Homo sapiens: one gene and its partners. The protein of the gene in region 7 purifies or fractionates together with the protein of the main gene of each other region. This does not show direct contact. Each region holds a gene or a part of one and is shown on either strand. Other genes may lie near its edges. The genes, in order: NCBP1, KIFC1, TSR1, POM121C, USP1, RANGAP1 and KPNB1.

What was found.
Region 1: the proteins of KPNB1 (region 7) and NCBP1 purify together in Homo sapiens (co-immunoprecipitation; 2 studies listed by BioGRID and IntAct, with this or other methods). This does not show direct contact.
Region 2: the proteins of KPNB1 (region 7) and KIFC1 purify together in Homo sapiens (affinity purification with mass spectrometry; 2 studies listed by BioGRID and IntAct, with this or other methods). This does not show direct contact.
Region 3: the proteins of KPNB1 (region 7) and TSR1 purify together in Homo sapiens (affinity purification with mass spectrometry; 3 studies listed by BioGRID and IntAct, with this or other methods). This does not show direct contact.
Region 4: the proteins of KPNB1 (region 7) and POM121C purify together in Homo sapiens (affinity purification with mass spectrometry; 2 studies listed by BioGRID and IntAct, with this or other methods). This does not show direct contact.
Region 5: the proteins of KPNB1 (region 7) and USP1 purify together in Homo sapiens (affinity purification with western blotting; 2 studies listed by BioGRID and IntAct, with this or other methods). This does not show direct contact.
Region 6: the proteins of KPNB1 (region 7) and RANGAP1 purify together in Homo sapiens (affinity purification with mass spectrometry; 3 studies listed by BioGRID and IntAct, with this or other methods). This does not show direct contact.

Annotation. Positions count from the first base shown.
Region 1 is NC_000009.12:97,668,321-97,671,820, reverse strand, and holds part of NCBP1 (nuclear cap-binding protein subunit 1), read right to left. Parts: intron 2,976-3,500; coding exon 2,847-2,975; intron 2,229-2,846; coding exon 2,115-2,228; intron 736-2,114; coding exon 622-735; 3' UTR 1-621. UniProt on the Homo sapiens protein: Component of the cap-binding complex (CBC), which binds cotranscriptionally to the 5'-cap of pre-mRNAs and is involved in various processes such as pre-mRNA splicing, translation regulation, nonsense-mediated mRNA decay, RNA-mediated gene silencing (RNAi) by microRNAs (miRNAs) and mRNA export.
Region 2 is NC_000006.12:33,401,823-33,405,322, reverse strand, and holds part of KIFC1 (kinesin-like protein KIFC1), read right to left. Parts: intron 2,010-3,500; coding exon 1,956-2,009; intron 1,839-1,955; coding exon 1,788-1,838; intron 1,595-1,787; coding exon 1,194-1,594; intron 472-1,193; coding exon 1-471. UniProt on the Homo sapiens protein: Minus end-directed microtubule-dependent motor required for bipolar spindle formation. May contribute to movement of early endocytic vesicles. Regulates cilium formation and structure.
Region 3 is NC_000017.11:2,329,958-2,333,457, reverse strand, and holds part of TSR1 (pre-rRNA-processing protein TSR1 homolog), read left to right. Parts: intron 1-333; coding exon 334-497; intron 498-1,098; coding exon 1,099-1,289; intron 1,290-2,348; coding exon 2,349-2,511; intron 2,512-2,832; coding exon 2,833-2,943; intron 2,944-3,087; exon of another isoform or gene 3,088-3,179; intron 3,180-3,500. UniProt on the Homo sapiens protein: Required during maturation of the 40S ribosomal subunit in the nucleolus.
Region 4 is NC_000007.14:75,437,800-75,441,299, reverse strand, and holds part of POM121C (nuclear envelope pore membrane protein POM 121C), read left to right. Parts: intron 1-184; coding exon 185-346; intron 347-2,075; coding exon 2,076-2,156; intron 2,157-3,500. UniProt on the Homo sapiens protein: Essential component of the nuclear pore complex (NPC). The repeat-containing domain may be involved in anchoring components of the pore complex to the pore membrane. When overexpressed in cells induces the formation of cytoplasmic annulate lamellae (AL).
Region 5 is NC_000001.11:62,447,049-62,449,676, reverse strand, and holds part of USP1 (ubiquitin carboxyl-terminal hydrolase 1), read right to left. Parts: intron 2,337-2,628; coding exon 2,166-2,336; intron 1,213-2,165; coding exon 1,011-1,212; intron 1-1,010. UniProt on the Homo sapiens protein: Negative regulator of DNA damage repair which specifically deubiquitinates monoubiquitinated FANCD2. Also involved in PCNA-mediated translesion synthesis (TLS) by deubiquitinating monoubiquitinated PCNA.
Region 6 is NC_000022.11:41,276,188-41,279,687, forward strand, and holds part of RANGAP1 (ran GTPase-activating protein 1), read right to left. Parts: intron 1,831-3,500; exon of another isoform or gene 1,709-1,830; coding exon of another isoform or gene 1,696-1,708; intron 1-1,695. UniProt on the Homo sapiens protein: GTPase activator for RAN. Converts cytoplasmic GTP-bound RAN to GDP-bound RAN, which is essential for RAN-mediated nuclear import and export. Mediates dissociation of cargo from nuclear export complexes containing XPO1, RAN and RANBP2 after nuclear export.
Region 7 is NC_000017.11:47,666,919-47,670,418, reverse strand, and holds part of KPNB1 (importin subunit beta-1), read right to left. Parts: intron 2,234-3,500; coding exon 2,009-2,233; intron 742-2,008; coding exon 550-741; intron 1-549.

The DNA of each region.
Region 1 (3,500 bases), on a different chromosome or scaffold from region 7:
GGTGATTTACATTAAGACAAATTTGAGAGCTACTCTTCCAACTAGTAACACTTTTATTACTAACAAGTCATGTCTTAAAGATACTACTTAAAAATACTTTGAAGATAAAATTTCAAATGGAGAACACCTTCAGTAAGAAACCACCAGTTTTAGAGTAGAGTGAGATGATAAATCATGAAATGCCAAAGTTTAAAAACCATACTTTTAGTTTTATTTCAGCCATGTTAATTCATCCCCGAGCTGTGAAAAGTTATGCTACTGGGTAGCTGGGTAAACCCATCAGTTCTATATACTATGTAAGGTTGACCTCTAGTGTTTCACATACCTCAAACCAATTATTTTGTGCCTTAAGGAGAAAAAAAATAACAAACTGATCACAGAGAATTTGTATCTGTCACATATATAATATATCATGGTCATAGTCACATTACTGCCGTTAGGAAGTATTTGCTTTTCAGGGCAATTAAAAGTAATGCCATGTTCATTCACTGTCCTCTTCCCCTTTGTTTCCTTTAAGAAGTGAAAGGATACTACAAGAAAGCAAGCATTCAAACCATCAAAAAATAAGACAAATTATTTTAAGATATCAAAAAAAACCTTGACATGAGGAAAAAATGACCCTTAGGCCTGCAGGGCACAGAACTGCTGGAACACGGCCAAGATATGAGGGTCTAATTCAGCAGTGAAGAGAAGGTTCTCCAGGGTCACCATGTACTGCTGGATTATTTGGTGATGCTGTGGACACACAAAAGGGGGTAGTTAGGTCAGGAAAAAGCATATAAGCAATCTTGTGGAACATTTCCTTCAGCAGCCCACCCATGCTGCAGAATGATGAAAAGAGGAAGGGGAAAAAAAAGTGCTGATAGGAACAATGGACCCCTGAAAATCCCCAACATTAAAAAAATAAAAAGGGAAATGAAAAAAATGGATGCTCAATAGCTTTTTAAAAAATCCAGTTCTTACCAACTTCTATGTAAACAGAATTCATGATTCAAGGCAGTGGCAGCAGTGCCTGCTTGCTCCTAGTACTATTACGGACTAGGCTCAGCTAGCTCTCTCCCCAGTCAGGGCATAATACATTGTAACTTTTTAAAAAGCAGCCAGACGGACTGACAGGAAGATAAACAGTCAGAAAACGAAATACTCTTGTCTATGTGTTCCTCTATAAGCCATGAATACTCTCAGAGATTCTTATAGGACTAGAGACTGTTAAAGCTTTTAAAACTGGCAGTAACTATAAAATCAGAGGGAATTCCTATTTGGAGGCTCAAAGAATTGAACTTAGAGTGACTTCTACATTAATCATTCTTCTAGAATGAACAAATGAAGATTTAGGGGAGTAGTGTCCGAAGATACAATGAATTAGCTCCACTCTCCTATATACCTTTAACTTAAATCTAGGTGAGAATAGGTGCCGGCATTTTGCTTTTGCAGAGAGACCCCAGGGAGCTTACCTTGATTCTGTGGACAGTTTACCACCTGCACATTGGATAACACTGGCTTTTTAGGGACTTATAAATCCAATTACTGTCCTCTTGATATTTTTGTCCTCTACATTTTATATTACAGCTAGGATCCCCAGCATAGAAAATGACAATTAGGAGACTGGGCACCGTGGCTCACGCCTATAATCCCAGCAGCACTTTGGGAGGCGGAGGCCTCCTGAGGTCAGGAGTTTGAGACTAGCCTGGCCAACATGGTGAAACTCTGTCCCTACTAAAAATACAAAAATCAGGCAGGAGTAGTGACGGGTGCCTGTAATCCCAGCAATATGGGAGGCTGAGGCAGAAGAATTGCTTAAACCTAGGAGGTGGAGGTTGCAGTGAGCTGAGATCGTGTCACTGAACTCCAGCCTGGGCAACAGAGTGAGATGCCATCTCAAAAAAAAGGTGGGGCGGGGGGTTGTTGGGGGGGTGGCAATTAGGAATCTAAGTGGTACAGAATCAGTTTAAGCCTAAATATTCTGATGAGCAATGGTAGCAGCAAATGGACATGAACTAAAGGGTCTAACAGGTACTATATAACCTCCTAACAAATTTGACAAGGATTTTTTTTAATGAAAAATCTTTGTGGCTGAGAATAGTGTTATTACCTAATCGAAGTTCCCCACATACCTGTAGGAAGATCTGCTGCAGCCTCTCTATACAGTTCTTATACCATGGTGTTAATACACTGGTCCCATCAGTTTCGCATCGTACTAGGTGCTCGGTCAAGATCATGATAAACCGCTGGAAAGGGAGAAGAAGTTAAGGTAGTACTACAGACAGAATCTTATACTTTGGAAAAAAATTCATGACAAAGAAACCCCAAAGTATTGCCTGTTCCACCCTGTCTTTGTGGTGTGTGTGCCTAGCTTCCATTATTCATGAAGTCAACCTAGAAGGGCAGACTGGTAATAACATGAGTTGGTACATTCTTCCTGGCAATACATAAAGACCTTTAATGTCTTAAATTACTTATCCTAGTAATATTACTTCCTGGAATCTATTCTAACGAAGTAATCAGAAATTTTAACAGGAATCTATGCATTAAAATGTTCATGGAAGGAAAATGATCAGCAATGAGGAATAATTAAACGAGACATATATAAAAAAAGCAACCCACAATTTTTTTTCAAGCATGGAGAAATGCTCATGCGAGAATACTAAGTAAACAGCAGAGAAACTCAGACATACATGGTTGCCTCTGAGTAGTGAACTTTTATTTCCTTCCTAAATTTTTGTATTTTTAATCTCTTCTATAAATGAATGTGTATTCCTTTTACAATGAAAAATAACATTTTTAAAAACTAAAACTAAAGAAATGTATTGTTTCCTTTTATGTATAAATGTCCCAAGCCAAGATACCTGAAATATAACGAGGAAAAGATTCTTTTGTTCACTCTGAGCAGATTCCACTTTTTCCTGAAGTCGTTCTATTTGTTCCTCAAGAACCCCGTCTTTCCTGTCACTGCTTCTGTCGTCATCATCACTTCGCTATAGAAGGCAAATGAACAAAAGGAAAATACCATTTAGATTCCAGTGTGTTAAATCTCCTCCAGGGGAAGCATTTTACTGTGTCTGGCCAAATGTTAAGACTTATATTCTATAGTGAAAGTACCCCCCCACCCCGCCACCCACACATATATACCTCAAAGTCCTGTTGTGGTTCAGAGACACTGTCTTCTCATTCAGAAATTCCATGGGTTCTTATCTAGGCCAGGGAAATTTAGTGGCACTTGTCTTGGTAACAACATGGGGGGACTTGGCTACAATTTATCACTATTTGACCATTTGAGCAGTAACAACAGGGAGACAGCTTGCTAATCATTCATCTGCTAATGGGCCATACAGAAAAACTGGGCAAGTCCTATGGGCCAAGGCTGCTCATTCTTGTTATAATTTAGAAATGGCTCCAGCCGACATATAATAATTCAAAGTGGGCTGTTTAAGACTTTCTGCTGGCAATGATGGGCTCAATATACTCCTGTAAAGCTTTAATAATCCCTGCCCCCAGCTCAC
Region 2 (3,500 bases), on a different chromosome or scaffold from region 7:
ATAGGCAAAGATGCATACTGGATAGCCATCCAGGGCTGACTGGACAAGCATGGCAATCTCTTCAAACACTTCATCCTGTCCACTTCCTGGTGGGAATACCCGGTCAAAGGAAAAATCATGGCGAGTTGGGGGAGCTGGTGCCCCACTCAGGGTCCCACGCCGCTCGTCAGACCGGGAGAGGCTAAGGCGGGTTGGAGGATCAGAGGGCCCACCAGGGCCAGAGGGAAACAGGAGGAGGCCAGGGGGTGGAGTGGGCTCCCCCGGCAGGACAGGGCGGACCCGGCAGAATACACGGATGTTGCCCTTGAGTTCCTGCAGCTGGTTGTGCAGTCGCCGGCGCTCCATTTCTAGCCCATGAAGACGTTCTTCCCGCTCAGTCAGTAAGGCTGCCTGGGCCACAGTCTCCTGCCGCAGAGATGCCACCTCTGCTTGGCTGCTTGACAGGGCTGCTTCTGATGTCTGCAGCCTCCTCTGCCCAGAAGAGAACACAACATACACAGAGGGTAAGATGCAACCAAGAAGAAGAACAAACTGTGGGGCGTATGGAGTGGGTGGAAGTGAGGTCCCTGCTCAAAAGGACCTCAAAGTCTGGTAAACAAAGAAAGATGAGAAAATAAGGAATCATGGTACTAAGACAGGGAGTGCTATGGGTATGTCCAAGCACAAAGAGGAGCACAAGGAAGATGATATCTAGGGTGACACCCAGAAGTACAGGAGTGAACCAAGGAAGGATGTAGTATACAAAGAACATTCCAGAAAGAGGGAAGCACATATGCAGAATGCCCAGAAGTGAAAGTTGAGTCATTTAAGAGACTGCAAATAACTTAATCTAGTTGGTGCTCACCAGGAAGGAGTCAAGTGGACATGGGAGGAGGGAAAGAGAGTACCACAGGAATTTGTGATCAGGATGGGAACCCAAAGAAAGAGGGATGGAGGACTAAGAAAGACACAGATCTAAATGAGAGCTTTGCAAACAGTCAAGGGTAGGAAGAAGCGTGGCAGAAAGCAAGACAGTCAGGAGTGGGCTGGGGTGCAGACAGGTCAAGAGAGAGGTATCTTCAGCAGCACCTATACTGCTAAAGATAGGTGCTCAGGAGTTCTCAGCCCAGACTTGAGGGGTACCTGGAAGGGAGGGGAGGCATGACCTCTGCCAGGAAAGCGGGGCTGACATCTGGTGAAAATCTGGCCCTTACCTCCTTCTCCTCTAGTTGGGACATCAGTCCCCTCCGTTCTTCCTGCAATTCCACCTGTTTTTTCTGAAGCTCTTGCACCAAGCCCTCCTGCGTGCTCAGCCGCTCTTCCAGCTCCAGGACACAAGCACGCAAGTTCTTCAGCTCCTGTTGGCCCTGCTCAGCCTGGGCCTGTACCTTGGCTAAATGCCCCTCCAGTGTTGTGCGCTCTGTCCCCAGGGCCTTGACCTGCTGCTGGGCATCTCTGAGCTGGTCCTGAAGCTGCTGGTTCTCTTGGTCCAACGTTTGAGTCCTCTCACGGCACCGTTTTAGTTCTGCATTTAGGTCACATAACTGACCCTTTAAGTCCCAGGCTGGACGTTTGCTGGGTTTCTTCCCTCCTGCCATGGGAGGAACACCTGATGCTAAGATGAACACAGAAAGGACAAAGGTCAGTGAAGTCTAGGCTCTCTATCCCTCCTCCCTTCTAGCCTTTATGGGATCCACACCTGATGCTACATCTCCTTCCCCTTAGAGACCAAATGGATTTTTCTGGTCACTCACCATCTTCTCTTCCCTATCCCAGCCTCTCACCCAGTGGTTATGTTTGTCACTTACTGCCAGACTTCTGGACAGGAACAGCAGGAACTGGCTTCTGGTTCTTCAACCCTACAGAATTGAGGAGGTGACTTAGGAATTACAGGACCAGTGTCCCTCCACCTCCATCATTCTCCCTTTACACATACCCCAAATCCCTTCTCAGACCCAGCTCTTGAGCACAGTTACCTGTGGCAATAGCTGTGGAACACCGGGGTCCTGTCTTCTTGGAAACTTTTTGAGCTGCCCAGGAGATGGGAGAGAGCAAAGGTAGAATGATCATTCTTAAGATGGCATGTACACTTGCTAGGACAGGGGCAGAAGAAGTGCTTTTCTCAGAATTAGAAATAGGATAACTTCCTTCCCTTATCCCTAAGTCTGGCCAGCTCCTAATGATACCTCCCCTAGAACCAGAAATTACAGTCATCCCTCAGTATCCAAAAGGGGTTGATTCCAGCACCCCCCAAGAATACCAAAATCCAAGGATGCCCAAGTCCCTTACATAAATAGGTATATAGTATTAAATATAGTCTATGCACACGCTCCCATATACTTTATTTATTGATTGACTGAGACAGAGTTTCACTTGTTGTCCAGGCTGAAGTGCAATGGCATGATCTCAGCTCACAGCAAACTCTACCTCCAGGGTTCAAGCGATTCTCCCGCCTCAGCCTCCCGAGTAGCTGGGATTATAGGTATGCGCCACCACGCCCAACTAATTTTGTATTTTTAGTAAAGACGGGGTTTCACCATGTTGATTAGGCTGGCCTCAAACTCCTGACCTCTGGTGATCTGCCTGCCTTGGCCTCCATTTTGTTTTTTTTTTGAGATGGAGTTGCACTCTTCTCACCCAGGCTGGAATGCAATGGCGCGATCTCAGCTCACTACAACCTCCACCTCCAGGGTTCAAGCAATTCTTCTGCCTCAGCCTCCTGAGTAGCTGGGATTACAGGCAAGCGCCACCACGCCTGGCTAATTTTTTTTTTTTTGTATTTTTAGTAGAGACAGGTTTTCAGCATGTTGGCCAGGCTGGTCTCAAACTCCTGACCTCAGGTGATCTGCCTGCCTCAGCCTCCCAAAGTGCTGGGATTACAGGCGTGAGCCACCACATCCAGCCGCATATACTTTAAATCATCTTTAGATTACTTATAATATCTAACACAATGTAAATGCTATGTTAATACAGTCATGTGCCCATAATGACATTTCGGTCAATGACAGACTGCATATACAACAGTAGCCCCGTAACATTATAATGGAGCTAAAAATTCCTATTGCCTAGTGACATTATAGCCATGGTAATGTCATAGCATTCCTCACCTGTTTGTGGTGATTCTGATATAAACGAACCTAATGCACTGCCAGTTGTATAAAAGTATAACACATATAATTACATATAGTACATAATACCTAATAATGATAATGACTATGTTACTAGTTTATATATTTACCGTACTGTACTTTTTATTGTTATTTTAGGGTATACTCCTTCTATTTGCAAAAACAGTTAACTATAAAACAGCCTCAGGCATGTCATTCAAAAGGCATTCCAGGCCAGGCACTGTGGCTCACGCCTGTAATCCCAGCACTTTGGGAGGCCGAGGTGGGCAGATCAAGGGGTCAGGAGATTGAGACCATCCTGGCTAACACGGTGAAACCCCGTCTCTCCTAAAAATACAAAAACAAAATTAACCAGGCGTGGTGGCGGGCACCTGTAGTCCCAGCTACTCCGGA
Region 3 (3,500 bases), about 45 Mb from region 7:
GGTATAGTTGAAAGTCTCTCCTCACCCTCAAATGCTGTATGTTTTCAATAAACAAACATTATACACAGTCTTGTTCCATTTCTCAAAATTACTTGTGTTAATGTTTTATCATGAACAGATAAACAACTTTGGATTCATTGCAGGGCTTATTTAGCTGTGTAAGTATTGCTAGTTGTGAGGCAGCTGAATTAAATTTGGAAGTAGTTCTATTTACAGTGTCTGCCAGAATTTCCCATGTTGGCAGCAGTATCTGGTGCCTTGCCTAGGTGAGAATAACCAGAGGGATAGGGAAAAGAAGTCTGTAATTTACTTAATTTGTTTGGGCTTTTACAGATTTCTTGAAGGAAAGTTCTAAGGTGGTAAAGAAGGTCCCCAAAGGAACATCCAGTTACCAAGCTGAATGGATTTTGGATGGTGGCAGCCAAAGTGGTGGGGAAGGAGATGAATATGAATATGATGATATGGAACATGAGGATTTTATGGAGGAGGAATCTCAGGTAAGGAAATGAGGCCTTAGGCCAATTCTGTGTCTAGCTCCAAATGTAAGGCAAAGTGCAGGTGTGATCTTGATGGGTGTGTGTGGTTAGTTTCTTTTTTTTATTTTTTTTATTTTTTTTTTATGAGACGGAGTCTTGCTCTGTTGCTCAGGCTGGAGTGCAGTGGTGCGATCTGGGCTCACTGCAAGCTCTCCCTCCTGGGTTCACGCCATTCTCCTGCCTCAGCCTCCTGAGTAGCTGGGACTACAGGCGCCCACCACCATGCCTGGCTAATTTTTTTGTATTTTTAGTAGAGACGGGGTTTCACTGTGTTAGCCAGGATGGTCTCAATCTCCTGACCTCATGATCCGCCTGCCTTGGCCTCCCAAAGTGCTGGGATTACAGGCGTGAGCCACCGCACCCGGCCGTGTATGGTTAGTTTCTTAGGAATGACTCTGTAGTTGCCAGGAATGAGGCTTTTGTTTTATACTTTAGACTGTATTAGAATTTATGTTGGTTGGGAATAGGGATCTAGTACAATTATTTTACTCTTAGCTTATTGGCCTTTGGGGTAGAGACAGGTGTGGATTTCTTCTGAAAAAACTGTAATCCTATTCTACAGGATGAGAGTAGTGAAGAAGAGGAAGAATATGAAACTATGACTATTGGGGAGTCTGTGCATGATGATCTGTATGATAAGAAAGTAGATGAAGAAGCTGAGGCAAAAATGTTGGAGAAATATAAACAAGAAAGACTGGAAGAGATGTTTCCAGATGAAGTGGACACGCCCCGTGATGTGGCTGCTCGAATTCGGTTAGTCAACAAGTCTATCAACAAATCTAAATTCAGTCAATACGTTTTTAAAAACTTGGCTCAGAGCTGTGTCACTGTGATGCAAAAGAAGAAAAACACATTTTTTCTGCTCCTGAAGAGCTAACATTTAATATGGGAAGGCAGGACATACATACGGGAAATGGTCATATGTAATTAAGTTCTAGACTGTGGTGCAGACTCACGTTACAGGACTTGAATGAAGGGGAAATACTAAGGTTAATTAGCAAATACTTCTTCCCAAAGGAGCCAGTACTCAATTGAAGTATATAATGTTTGGAAATTTTAGGGGGTTTGGGTAGAATAGCAGAAGTAGAAGAGTGAAGAAGTAGATGATTATATCTGTTCTGGAGGTGAGTGACTAAAGCCAGTGAATTAATTTTGGATATTAGGAGGTAAGGCTATGTATTAGGCCATTCTCGCATGGCTATAAAGAAGTACCAGAGACTGCATAATTTATAAAGAAAAGAGATTTAATTGGGTCATGGTCCTGCAGACTGTACAGGAAGCATGGTGTTGGCATCTGCTCAGCTTCTGGGGGTGTCCTCAAGAAACTTACAATCATGGCAGAAGGTGGAGGGGGAGCAAGTCATGTCACACGGCCAGCGCAGTAACGAGAGCAAGGCAGGAGGTGCTACACACTTTAAACAACTAGATCTCATGAGAACTCACTCAACAAGGAGGGTGGTGCTAACCCACTCATGAGAAAACCTCTCCCCTAATGCAGTCACCTCCCACCAGGCTCCACCTCCAACACTGGGGATTGTATTTCAGTATGAGATTGGGGCAGGGAGACACATCTGAACTGTATCAGGCCATTACCAAGCATCTTTTTTGTCAGTGAGAAGCTTGGGTTTGGTTCCGATAGAACTTGTTATAAGCTGTTCGGAGTGTCGTCTTGGTTTAAGCTGTTGGGTTGTTTGGAGAGAGGATGATTGGAGTTCTTTTCAGCTAGCTCCTTAGCCATTTTAGCAGTGACTTGAGTCTATATAGCACCATATAAATCTGACTTAATGTCTTTAAAAATCTTCAATATTCTAGATTTCAGAAATACAGAGGCCTTAAGAGCTTCCGGACATCTCCATGGGATCCTAAGGAAAACCTTCCTCAAGATTATGCTCGAATATTTCAGTTTCAGAACTTTACTAACACTAGGAAAAGCATCTTTAAAGAGGTTGAAGAAAAAGAGGTTGAAGGAGCTGAGGTATCTATCCTCCTTGTTCATCTTGTATGTTGCTTTCATTTGTCAACATGCTCCCTACTTTATTCCTTCTCTTGGCATGAAAATATGCTGCATTTGGGGATTAGGGGAGCCCCTGAGTCATTGATTAGAATGATACTGGGAACAAAGAGGTATCAGCTATGTTAAATGAAAAAGTGTGATCTGGGTAAATGAAGCATCTTGAAGGATGAGGGTTGGCTTTAAAAATTTTATCTGAGAGACTCAACATATTTGGAGAAAGCTTCCTCGCTATTGGGACTTTGAAAGGTAACTCCATGATTGCTTTCTGCTTTCTTGTGGCAGGTTGGCTGGTATGTCACACTTCATGTCTCTGAAGTCCCCGTCTCAGTGGTCGAGTGCTTCAGGCAAGGAACACCCTTGATTGCATTTTCTTTACTACCTCATGAACAGAAGGTAAATTGCTGTCTTGTGGGAAAATGGGGGGTTGTGAAACTTTCCAGCTGCTTCTGACAGTCTAAAATTCTGTTTATGTGTGACTAAAATTTTGCTCATTGGGATGCAAAAAGTCTGCCTTTATGATTAGGAATTGGAGAATAATAGAGAAGTCAATGATGGTTTTATTCATATCGTCTGAACCTGTCTGAAGCATCTCAGTGATGCAATCTCTGTGTGGTTCTGAGACTTCTCCAAGTATGTTTTTCAGACCAGATTTTGAATAAGGGTTGGCAGCCTTAAAAATAAAGGTTTGGCTGGGCGCGGCGGCTCACGCCTGTAATCCCAGCACTTTTTGGGAGGCCAAGGTGGGTGGATCACCTGAGGTCGGGAGTTCGAGACCAGCCTGACCAACATGGAGGAACCCTGTCTCTACCAAAAATACAAAATTAGCCAGGCGTGGTGGCACATGCCTGTAATCCCAGCTACTTGGGAGGCTGAGGCAGAAGAATTGCTTGAACCCAGTAGGCGGAGGTTGTGGTGAGCCAAGATTGCACCATTGCACTCCAGCCTGGGCA
Region 4 (3,500 bases), on a different chromosome or scaffold from region 7:
ATTCTAGTAAAACCGTTTGTTTTTCACTTTTTGCCGTTAACGAAAAAGTAGCTTTACTTGCTAAGGGGAACTGTTGTGAGTGTATAAATTATACTTTGGCCTGTTGGTTAGCTTCTGATTTCCGTTTCTGATGTGGCATGGGAATTAAAATATCTTACGGCTAGAATCTTGTCTTTCATTATAGACCAGAGCAGATAATCAGCTCAACACTGTCGTCACCATCAAGTAATGCCCCAGACCCATGTGCAAAGGAGACTGTACTGAGTGCCCTCAAAGAGAAGAAGAAGAAAAGGACAGTGGAGGAAGAAGACCAAATATTCCTTGATGGCCAGGAAAATAAAAGAAGGTAACAGGCTCAGGAGAGTACTAAGCCAGTTTCCCGCTTGGACCCCTATGGGATGAGATGTAGACATTCCCGTAAAGATACAGAGGCCACGTCCAGTTTGTGAGCCTTCATAGGCCTCCTTCTTTGGCTTTCATGAGAGAACCTAATAACAAGGGTTTTAATGCTGTTCATTTCAAGGCACAGGTTAGATCGATGTCATAATTTACCTTTTCTGTGAGTAGCAGAGATAAGCTGACAGCTATTAGCCATGTTAGCCTCATGCTTCTGTAGAAACGTGTTAAAAGTTTATTTTCAAGAAAGAAGGCTCTAAGTCTTCCGGTCGGAATTTTGTGGTGTTCAGTTATTTGGGTAACCACCAGTTCTAGTGTCTTTTTTTTTTTTTTTTTGAGTTGGAGTCTGTCTCTGTCCCCCAGGCTGGAGTGCAGTGGCCCGATCTCAGCTCACTGCAAGCTCAGCCTCCCAGGTTCATGCCATTCTCCTGCCTCAGCCCCCCGAGTAGCTGGGACTACAGGCGCCCGCCACCATGCCCAGCTAATTTTTTTGTATTTTTAGTAGAGACAGGGTCTCACCATATTGGCCAGGATGGTCTCAAACTCCTGACCTCGTGATCCGCCCACCTTGGCCTCCCAAAGTGCTGGGATTACAGGCTTGAGCCATGGCGCCCGGCCCACCAGTTCTAGTGTCTTAATTGTGCTGAAGGAAATGCTTGGGAAAGAAAAATGAAAACTAGAGTTTGGTAGTTTTATCAATAATGAGATTAAAACCAATTTCCTGGCAGGGCAAGGTGGCTCACGCCTATAATCCCAGCACCTTGAGAGGCCGAGGCGGGTGGATCACCTGAGGTCAGGAGTTCGAGACCAGCCTGGCCAACATGGTGAAACCCCGTCTCTACTAAAAATACAAAAATTAGCTGGATGTGGTGGTGGGTGCCTGTAGTCCCAGCTACTCCAGAGGCTGAGACAGGAGAACTGCTTGAACCCAGGAGGCGGAGGTTGCAGCGAGCCGAGACCATGCCAGTGCACTCTAGCCTGGGTGACAGAGCGAGACTGTCTCAAAAAAAAAAAAAAAAATTCCTTATGTGGTTTGTAAAATAACCTAATGAAAATGGAATAGTTTTCTAATTACAGAAAGAAAAGAAGTTGAAGTGGGTGAGCATTTACTGAGCACCCACTGTGTATGAGACCCTACTGCAAGTACTGTGGATAGAGCAGTGGACAAGACAAAATCTCTGCTCTCATGGGACTCTTGAGGGAAACACCATTTTATAAGGCTGGGTATGGTGGTGCATGCCTGTACTCCTAACACTTTGACAGGCCAAGGTGGGAGGATCGCTGGAACCCAGGAGCTCAAGACCAGCCTGGGCAACATAGGGAGCCCTCGCCTGTACAAAAAATTAAGAAATTAGCCAGGTGTGGTGGTGCATACTTGTAGTCCCAGCTGCGCTGGAGGCTGAGGCAGGAGAATTGGTTGAACCCGGGAGGCAGAGGTTTGTTGCAGTGAGCCAAGATTGTGCTATTGCACTCCAGCCTGGGCAACAAGAGTGAAACTCTGTCTGAAAAAAAAAAATTTACCTTTCAGAAACTTAGGGATTTTAAACAACCATTTTCTGGTCTAGCATGGAATCTGTGCTCCATAGAGATAGTATAAGGTCCCAGAAATGTGAGAATACACTTTAAAGGGACAAACAAAGTCATGTCATTTCATTTGAGACTTTTTTGATTTGTCGCAGGCGCCATGATAGCAGTGGCAGTGGACATTCAGCATTTGAGCCCCTGGTGGCCAGTGGAGTCCCCGCTTCTTTTGTGCCTAAGTAAGTGCGAGTCCATCCAGATGAAATACCAACTGTTTGGAAAAAGGCCTGATCAGAGCTGTTGCCCTATAGATTTTCCTCTTTGTTTTTTGCATTGCTTAATTAGTTCAGGTTCATGTCTTTGAAATTAGGAATATTCTGAGTAACTTGTCACAATTAACTGCCTTCTGTCTAATTCCTTTTAATGTTCTTGCATTAATATGGATGAAATATGCTGAGACTAGAGGTTTTATAAATATATTTAATAACCAAGCACATACACAGAAGGATTGCAAAGTTTGTGCAGCGGATAAGACAGTATGAAACTTAAATGTTTAATTTCTACATGTCAGTTTAAAAACAAATTGGAGGAAGAATTGGGTGGAAAGGAAAGTGGCTCAAAAGTCTGTGTGGAAAGACTTAGGATAACTTAGATACCTCATCTGAGTCAGCAGTGTGATGTGGCCACCAGGAAAGCTAAAGTGCTCCTGGTCTGTGCTGTTAGAAGAAAGACTAGAATGAGGCAGGTATTCCTGCCTTCCGTAGTTCTGCTCACTGTCCGTGGAGCACTGTGGTCAGATCAGCGTACTGCACTGCGAGGGAGGATGTACACAAACGGAAATTCATTCCCAGTGAAGCAACGAAGATGTTAAGGAGATTTGCAACAGCCCAGAGGGGTGGTGGTGGATGATGGGGTTTTGGAGGTATGGAAGTATTAACCCAGAGGAGAAAAATCTCAGGAGGAATAAAGAAATAAGTGAGGGAAGGACAATGGTCTCCAAAAAACCAAAGGACTGTCCCTTGAAAGAAGCGAAATAACTTGCTCTGTTTGACTTCAAATAGGATCCGTGGGTGAAAGTTAGAGGAAATACATTGTAATCCACTGTGAGAATAAACTGGTTCATGGTTGACGTGGGTCACTCTAGGAGAGCGTTGTCTATATTGTAACAGGTTGGATGACTGTCCTACAGGAAAGATGCATAGGAGATTTCTGTTTCCATTGGAGGTTTAGAAAAATGATGGGTTCCTCTTAACTCTGATTTTTTTTTAACAGCTTTGTTGAGGTATAATTGACATAACTGTACTTGTTTAAAGCATGTGACATTTTGACACGCATACACCTGTGGAACCATCCCACCACTAAGATAATGAACATCCATGACCTCCAAAAGTTCCCACATGCCTGTAATCCCTCTCTTTAGTTCCACCCGTGTCCCCAGGCATCCACTGATCTGTCTTCTGTCACTGTAGATAGGTATGCATTTTCCAGAATATTCTATAAATCATACATTTAAGTTTTAAATATTTGGCTTTTCTTACTGACTTTGTCAGATAGATTTGGCCAGATTGTTAGCAGTAAAAATT
Region 5 (2,628 bases), on a different chromosome or scaffold from region 7:
CCCAAAGTGCTAGGATTACAGGTGTGAGCCACCCACGCCCAGCCCATTTTAGTCATTTTTAGTGTGAAGTTTTTCTCTACCAAAATTTGGGAAAGTAAATAAAATAGTATTTTATACTATTAGCAAAGGGAAGGTCCACTGAATAAGGGGCTATATGTTATCTTTTGACATAATCAAGTGTGAGAGAGCTACTGTGAAGCCCTCGTGGTAATTTCAAACAAGCAACTAATGTACAAAGGAGTCACACATACAATGACATTACACATGTCAGAAAAAAACAGACTATCCAAAACAATCAGCATTTTTTTTCAAACTGTTGAAAGACTAGTTTGATTTCCTGGCTTACCTTAAAACTAGGAAGAATTTAGCCTTTCCCGCCCCTTCAAAAAAATCTTGATGTATACAAAATTTGTTCCCTGCTTTAGTCAGTTCTACTGAATTCTGCTACTAACATCTAAGAGGGAATGAATATGAAAAGATGAATAAAGAAACTGGCCGGGCATGGTGGCTCACGCCTGTAATCCCAGCACTTTGTGAGGCTAAGGCAGGTGGATTGCTTGAGTCCAGAAGTTCAAGATCAGACTGGGCAACATGGTGAAATCCTGTCTCTACTAAAAATACAAAAAATTAGCTGGGCATGGTGGCATGCACCTGTAGTCCCAGCTACTCAGAAGGCTGAGGTGGGAGAACCACCTGAGCCTGGGAGGTCAAGACTGCAGTGAGCTGAGGCTGTGCCACTACACTCCAGCCTGGACAACTGGAATGAGACCCTGTTTCAAAAAAAAAAGGAGAAGAAATCATACTTAATAGAATATGTATTCATATCAAAAGGATTTAAGTTGTTTCATTTTTACAGGGAAACTGTTAATAAGAACAAAACTTTACTGAAGCAATCTTTACAATCTACTTCATTTCAGTACTTTATATTCCTACTATTACAGCATTTTGAACAAGACTTATCTTCTACAGCAGCTCATTTTCTTCATATAGTTCTTATTTACAATACTTACTCCAAACCACTAGCAGCAAAGCACTTCAAATGAATAGTTATAACTTCAGGCATTTTGTCAAACAAAAGACTTCGTTCAGCTTCAGTATAATGATGGCAGTTTTCACAGAAATATTTATCTTCTCCTACAATCCTTTCTACTGAAGCAAATTGTGAAATTGCCCATCTCAGGGTCTTCATTTCTGTTTTTGGCTCTGGAGAAACTAAAAAAGAGAATCCTTTCACTCAAATACTTCTCTCAGGCATTCAAAAAATAAACCACAAAGTTTCAGGTTCAAAATTAGCATTTAATTTCAATTGACCGACCCATTCCTAAATAACTAAAGAGATTTTTACTTTCAGAAACTACTTTCATAAGTGCATCCTCAACAGTATACATACCTTTTAAATATATTTGATCGGCCAAAAAATATGATAGACAGCAAAAACAAAATAAGCCTAGTCTGTTTACATTTAATTGCCAACTTTCAATATGTGATAGGTAAACCTGTCTCATGATTATTTCCTATGGTATTTCCATATTTTGTGGTATGCTCTAGACACAACAGTGGCTCAATTATTGTGTTAAAAACAACCTCAGTAGGCCAGGCGCGGTGGCTCACGCCTGTAATCCCAGCACTTTGGGAGGCCAAGGCGGGCGGATCACGAGGTCAGGAGATTGAGACCATCCTGGCTAACATGGTGAAACCCCGTCTCTACTAAAAATACAAAAAATTAGCCGGGCGTGGTGGTGGGCACCTGCAGTCCCAGCTACTCAGGAGGCTGAGGCAGGAGAATGGCATGAACCCAGAAGGCGGAGCTTGCAGTGAGCCGAGATCACGCCACTGCACTCCAGCCTGGGCAACCGAGCAAGACTCCATCTCAAAAAAATTAAAAAAAACCCTCAGTAGCTCTGAAAGACTCAGGTTCCCAAAAGTACACTTATTAAAGCATTTCAGTTTTCCATTCTAACACACTCTACATCAAAATCAAGATGTCACAATTTCCCAAATGCTAACCATTTATAAGTGAAGCCAGATAAGCAGAAAGGTTACATTAGACACTAAAAGCTAGCTTTTTTCCCCTCCCTAATTACACCAGCTACTATTAAACTTTGTGTTGTTAAAGAATTATAAATATTCCATCATGGTCCACACAAGACTCCAATTTTGCTTACTTTCAGAACTCTCCTCTACTTTGGAAAGCTCATCTTCTTGTACTGGCACACTGATGTCTTGAAAATCTTCTCTTCTTTCTGTTAAACTTTCACATTCCAAGCAACGCGTCCTTAATACCAGCTGACCTTGAAATAATTTCTCCACTAGCTCAAAACCAATTTGTTCTTCACCTAAAATGAAAATAGGAAAATGTAAGTCTATACAGATTAGTTTCTCATTATAGTCCAAATAACCAATTTTCCATTTAAATAAAGTATATCATGAATAACAGTTCCATTTTCATAGATCAGCTTATTAGCATTATTAGCTTATTAGAGGTACCCTATTAATGAAATTTAAGGTCCCTGTAAAGATAAAACTGACTATGAAATTACTGTCTTTAAAAGAAGTCAGTTGTAGGCCGGGCACAGTGGCTTAAGCCTGTAATCCCAAGACTTTGGGAGGCTGAGGCGGGCAGATCAC
Region 6 (3,500 bases), on a different chromosome or scaffold from region 7:
ACAAGGTCTAGAAACATAGAAACCAAATGCTATAGCAGTTCTCTCTAGCTGGTAGGATAATGGGTGATTGTGTGTTTTTAACTATTTGAAGTAAAATGTTCTCAATATATCAGGTTATATAGCAGCTTTTAAAAGATCTATAATATAATCCCAATTAAAAACAAAATGGGCTGGGAGTAGTGGCTCACACCTGTAATCCCAGCACTTTGGGAGGCTGAGGCCTGAGGATCACCTGAGGTCAAGAGTTTGAGACCAGCCTGTCCAATATGATGAAACCCTGTCTCTAACTAAAAATACAAAAATTAGCCGGGTGTGGTGGTGGATGCCTGTAATCCCAGCTATTAGGGAGGCTGAGACAGGAGAATTGCTTGAACCTGGGAGGCAGAGGTTGCAGTGAGCCGAGATCGTGGCATTGCACTAATCCCTGGGCAACAAGAGCGAAACTCCGTTTCAAAAAACAAACAAAACAAAATGAACTCAGCTATGTTCAGGAAAAAAAAAAAGACTAGGCTGGGCGCGGTGGCTCACGCCTGTAATCCCAGCACTTTGGGAGGCCAAGGCGGGCGGATCGTGAGGTCAGGAGTTCAGGAGTTCAAGAACAGCCTGGCCAACATGGTAAACCCCGTCTCTACTAAAAATACAAAAATTAGTTGGGCATGGTAGCGCATGCCTGTAATCCCAGCTGCTCGGAAGGCTGAGGCATAATTGCTTGAACTGGGACCCAGGAGGCGGAGGTAGCAGTGAGCGAGATCTTGCCACTGCACTCCAGCCTGGGCTACAGAGCGAGACTGTTTCTCAGAAAAAAAAAAAAAAAGACTGTGTTAGAAATAAAATGCCCTGAAAGTAATAGTAGTTATATCCCTGGGGTTATATGAAAGTGAGGATTTTTTTTTTTTTTTTTTTTTTTTGAGACGGAGTCTCGCTCTGTTGCCCAGGCTGGAGTGCAGTGGCGGGATCTCGGCTCACTGCAAGCTCCGCCTCCCGGGTTCACGCCATTCTCCTGCCTCAGCCTCCCAAGTAGCTGGGACTACAGGCGCCCGCCACTACGCCCGGCTAATTTTTTGTAGTTTTTAGTAGAGACGGGGTTTCACCGTTTTAGCCAGGATGGTCTCGATCTCCTGACCTCGTGATCCGCCCGCCTCGGCCTCCCAAACTGCTGGGATTACAGGCGTGAGCCACCGCGCCCGGCCGAAAGTGAGGATATATTTTTTCCCTGTTCTTTGAATGTTTCTGTATTCTATAATAAACCTGCATTAATTGTATAATCTGAACAAAACCAAAACTTACATGAAACAAAAAGTTGAGTCTGGCTGGTACAGGATGGAGTAGGGTGACATGTGGGAGGGAAGAGATAGAGATGGGTATGGGAGATAAAGTTTGAACTTGACCTTCTGGTCAAGAAGGGTCTTGAGAAAGGACTTATAACCTAGCAGGGGCTCCCTAAGAAGTTGTCCAAGGTGGGTCCAAGTTTCCCTGGTTGGGCCAGAACCCAAGGATGGCTCACTGATGCGGGTACCTTCACTTCCAGATGCCAGGGGATTCAGGGTTGGTCAGTGCCAGCCAAGCCTTGGCAAGGGATGAAAAGACTTCCTGGGTGCTCTTAAAGTAAAAGTGAGACCTCTCCCTGCCTTACTTCCCAGAGCCTTTTCACTTGTTTTCATAGAGTATATTCACATTTTGCCTTCACTTAGTTACCTGGGTATATCATTCCTATTCCAGATTTGCTGCTTCTTAGGAGCTGGGTAAGCTGGGCACCCCTGGGGACTTACAAAATGGGAGACACCACATTCAGCCTGTGCTGGGAGAGTAAAGAAGTTAACTGGATGGATTTCAGAGCCAGCCAAACTTGAGTTTTTTTTTTTTTTTTTTGAGATAGTCTCGTTCTGTCACCGAGGCTGGAGTACAGTGGTGCCATCTCGGCTCACTGCAACCTCCGCCTCCCGGGTTCAAGCGATTCTCCTGCCTCAGCCTCCGGAGAGTAGCTGGGATTACAGGTGTCCACCACCACGCCCGGCTAATTTTTGTATTTGTAGTAAAGACAGGGTTTCTCCATGTTGGCCAGGCTGGTCTGGAATTCCTGACCTCAGGTGATCTGCCCACCTCGGCCTCCCAAAGTGCTGGGATTACAGGCGTGAGCCACCGCACCTGGCCCAAACTTGAGTTCTAATCCCAGCTCTACTCATTAAAGCTGTGCCCTTAGGCATGTCATACCACCTCCCTAAACCTCAGTTTTCCAATCTGCAAAATGGAAATGCAATCTATCTCAAAGGATTTTGTGAAGATAAACTGAGATACTATTTATCTGGCACTTAATACCCTTATCTGACACGGTGTTCAATAAATGGCATTTGCCATCAAATCTCTGTTTCCTAAACGGAGCTCAATGTCTAATTAGAAGCACAGGAATAGGGATTTCACTGAACCTCTGTGAAAATCCTAGCTCTGCTATTTATCAAATGTGTGACCTTGGTCAAGTTACTTAAAGTCTCCTAAATTCCTTTTTCTCATTTATAAAACAGCAACATTCCAATCTATCTCCCACAAGGGTGACGCAAGCATCAAAAGTGATAAACGAGGTCAAAGTGGGCGGATCACCTGAGGTCAAGAATTCAAAACCAGCCTGGCCAACATGGCAAAACCCCGTCTCTACTAAAAATACAAAAATAAGGGGCCGGGCACGGTGGCTCACGCCTGTAATCCCAACACTTTGGGAGGCCGAGGTGAGAGGATCATGAGGTCAGGAGATCGAGACCATCTTGGCTAACTAACACGGTGAAACCCCGTCTCTACTAAAAATACAAAAAAATTAGCCGGGCGTGGTGGCGGGCGCCTGTAGTCCCAGCTACTCAGGAGGATGAGGTGGGAGAATGACATGAACCCAGGAGGCGGAGCCTGCAGTGAGCCAACATCATGCCAGTGCACTCCAGCCTGGGTAACAGAGCGAGACTCCGTCTCAAAAAAAATAATAATAATAAAAATACAAACACAAAAATAGGCTGAAGGCCAGACACAGTGGCTCACGCCTGTTATCCCAGTACTTTGGGGGCTGAGGCGGGCGAATCACCTGAGGTCAGGAGTTCTAGACCAGCCTGTCCAACATGGTAAAACCCCATCCCTACTAAAATACAAAAAATTAGCGGAGCATGGTGGTGGGTGCTTATAGTCCTAGCTACTCAGGAGGCTGAGGCAGGAGAATGGCGTGAACCAGGGAGGCAGAGCTTACAGTGAGCCGAGATTGCACCACTGCACTCCAGCCTGGGTGACAGAGCACGACTCCATCTCAAAAAAAAAACAAAAAGAAAAGAAAATTAGCTGGGCATGGTTGTACACACCTGTAGTCCCAGCTACCCAGGAGGCTGAGGCATGAGAATTGCCTGAACCCAGGCAGAGGTTAAAGTGAGCTGAGATTGCACCACCACACTCCAGCCTGGGCAACAGAGCAAGACTATGTCTCAAAAAAAAAAATTAGCCAGGCGTGATGGTGTGAGCCTGCAGTCCCA
Region 7 (3,500 bases):
GATAATCTGACATCTCTCATCATCCTGTTTGATAATCTGACAACTCTCTAAGCAGCAGAGTACTTTCAACCATACCTGCCATTTCATTTCTGTTTCCTTTCACAGAAAGACGTTTAGCCCCATTCCTTCCTTATTTGAACTTCCTCCCCTTAACCAATTACATTAGCCTATACTGACTCAGCATTTAGGCTGCCTACCTTCCTTCCCTCTTGCCCTCTACTCAGCAATGATACTTCTTACAGCCAAAAACTCTCTACCTTAATCAAAACTTCTTGTCCCCAAGCAATTCAAGAAAGCAACCCAAGTCCAGATAGTTTCCCCACTGGGTTACCATGACTGTTCTAAGTGGTTCAGGAACCAGTAACCATAAGTCAAGTGTTCCCACTGGCTCTTGCAGTTGGAATCTCCCCCACATTTTAATTGAATAAATTAGAAAGAAAATCAGAAAAAGCATTCCAGTGAGGCAGATTGATTTCTCTCCCACACCTTCTACTTTCTTGCCAGTGGCGCAGGCAAGCTCCTTTTCTCACCAGCAAGAAAATCCCTTACCCAGCACACATTTGAAGCCACTCTGGGTTCAGCACTGAGACCCTCAATCAGACACTGTAGCAGGGGAGCCAAGTAGACATCATTGATGGCAGCTTCAGGAAGCAGCTCACAAATTCTGCCTACAGTCCATGCAGCTGTATCTCGAACAACTACACTGGGGTCTTTCATTAATTCTATTAGGGTGGGCATAGCCTGAAAATATAACAGTTATTAGCAAAGCAAAACAAAGATTAAAATTCATGTTAACTACTACCCCAGAGAAAGAAATACTGATGGATGGCTTAACTCAAAAAAGTCACCAAGATACTTCTGTAATTTTACAGGACATGGTGTGAAACATCTTTCAAAATATTTGAAAATATCTTTCAAAACTCCAGTTTAGAGTTTTATATTAAGAATTTGGTGTAAATGCTTTTAGTAGTCTGCAATAAATTACTCAGATAGAGGCCGGGCATGATGATGGCTCATGCCTGTAATCCCAGCACTCTGGGAGGCTGAGGCAGGCAGATCACTTGAGGTCAGGAGTTGCTTGAGGTCAGGAGTTCAAGACCAGCCTGACCAACATGATGAAACCCGGTCTCTCTACTAAGAATACAAAAATTAGCTGGGCATGGTGGCACATAGTCCCACCTACTCAGGGGGCTGAGGCACGAGAATTGCTTAAGCTGGGGAGCTGGAGGTTGCAGTGAGCCTAGATTGCACCACTGCACTTCAGCACTCCAGCATGGGTGACAGAGTAAGACTCCATCCCCCCGCCTCCCTACCTCAAAAAAAAAAAGAATTACTCAGATACTCAGAATTCTCAGGATGCAGCTATGATGGCATCTGGCTATATCCAGAAAGACTGAAGACTGAATTCTTTAAGCACTAAACTCAACTATAACAAACTCTTTTTTTTTTTTTTGAGATAGAGTTTCGCTCGTTGCCCAGGCTGGAGTGCAATGGCACGACTTGTAATAGCAAAACAAGCACAACATTTCCATAAGAACATTTTCATTACATAAAGGACATTTTGTCCAAAGAATAGAATAATAATGCCATTATTAAAAATTATGGGGAATCAGTGCTAGGTGCAAAAAAAAATTATTGGGAAATGTTTACAACATAGTATTAAATGAAGAAACAAGTTATAAAACAATCTGCACAGGAAGAGCCTGTTGCACACACATGCACATAGGAAAAAGCTTCAAGGATAAATACAGAGTTAAGAGTGGTATTTCTGGGCAATGAAATTAAAGATGACTTTTCTCTTTTGGCTTCTTTCACATGTCTCTGGATCATGCTGACTTATGTAATTAAAAACCTAAGAAATATATTTTACCCTCATTAAAAGTAAACAAGTATCTAGAGATAATCTTTGTAGATGACAATTTACAGTTTTGTTTTGAAAAATAAAGATATGCTTTAAGTTTAAACAATAAATATCCTACTTTCTACTCCAAAAATCCCTCAGTTTCACCTGTATAACTAGTGGTTTGAGCTGACTGGGCTCTGGTCCTTCCAAGATACAACCAAAAGCCATCACTGCTGCATCCCGGTACCGCCAATCTGGGTTCTTGATGTGTTCTTTAATGAAGGGGAGGACATGTGGGACAATGTCATCTTCACAGCAGGTGGCCAGAAGCATGAGGCACACCCCTGCTGCTTTGCAGGGGTTCCAGTCATCGTCATCATCATTTTCGTCCTGGTGAAAGAATATGGCACTAGTTAAGATTTTGTCCAAAGAATCATTTTAACTCTAAAGGTCCTCTGACTACTCTTGAATGTCTTTAGAACTTAAACTCCAGGGAAATAAAATATAAGACCTTTATATTTTGTCTCTTCCACAAACATTCATCACAGCATAGCCTTTGTTAAACAAGATTCAGATGGAAGAAGATTCCATTTAGTACTACACAACAAGAATGAAAAAATTTCAACTACATCCAAAAAGAATGAATTCCAAACATTTAGAACAAAATACAGAACTAGAATGTATGCTGTATGATTCCAGTTATGTAAAGTCCAAAATCGGCCAGGCGCGGTGGCTCATGCCTGTAATCCCAGCACTTTGGGAGGCTAAGGTGGGTGGATCACCTGAGGTCAGGAGTTTGAGACCAGCCTGGTCAACATGGTGAAACCCCATCTCTACTAAAAATACAAAAATTAGCTGGGTGTGGTGGCACGTGCCTGTAGTCCCAGCTACTCAGGAGGCCAAGGCAGGAGAATTGCTTGAACCTGGAAGGCGGAGGTTGCAGTGAGCCGAGATTGTGCCACTGTGCTCCAGCCTGTGTAACAGAGTGAGACTCTGTCAGAAAAAAAAAAAAACATAGTATTAAAAATAATAATAAATAAAGTCCAAAATCAACAAAAATTAACCTATGGAATAAAAGACCAGGAAAGTAAGGGAGTTTCATGACTGGGAAGAAGACATGATTCAATCAAAAGTTCAAAAAAGAGGCAAGGTGCAGTGCAGTGGCTCATGCCTGTAATCCCAGCACTTTAGGAGGCCAAGGCAGGCAGATCACTTGAGGTCAGGACTTCGAGACCAGCCTGGTAAACATGGTGAAACCTCGTTTCTACTAAAAATACAAAGACTAGCTGGGTATAGTGGCACACACCTGTTAATCCCAGCTACTCGGGAGGCTGAGGCAAGAGAATCACATGAACCAGGGAGATGAAGGTTGTAGTGAGCCAAGACCGCCCCACTGCACTCCAGCCTGGGTGATAGAGCAAGACTCTGTACCCCCCAACGCCACCCCAAAAAACCAAAAACCAAAACCACAAAAGTTCAAAAAAGAAAAGATTCCACTAATATCTCCTCTTAAGTTAGAATCCAAGGTATAGCTTCCTAATTGTGGCCATTCACACCACATAGTAAACTTAAGGCAGGTTGCCTATGCAGTTTCAGAAAATCACACAAAGAATAATTTGTTCTCAAATAGGAAAAGCACAATAAAAATATAAGAAAG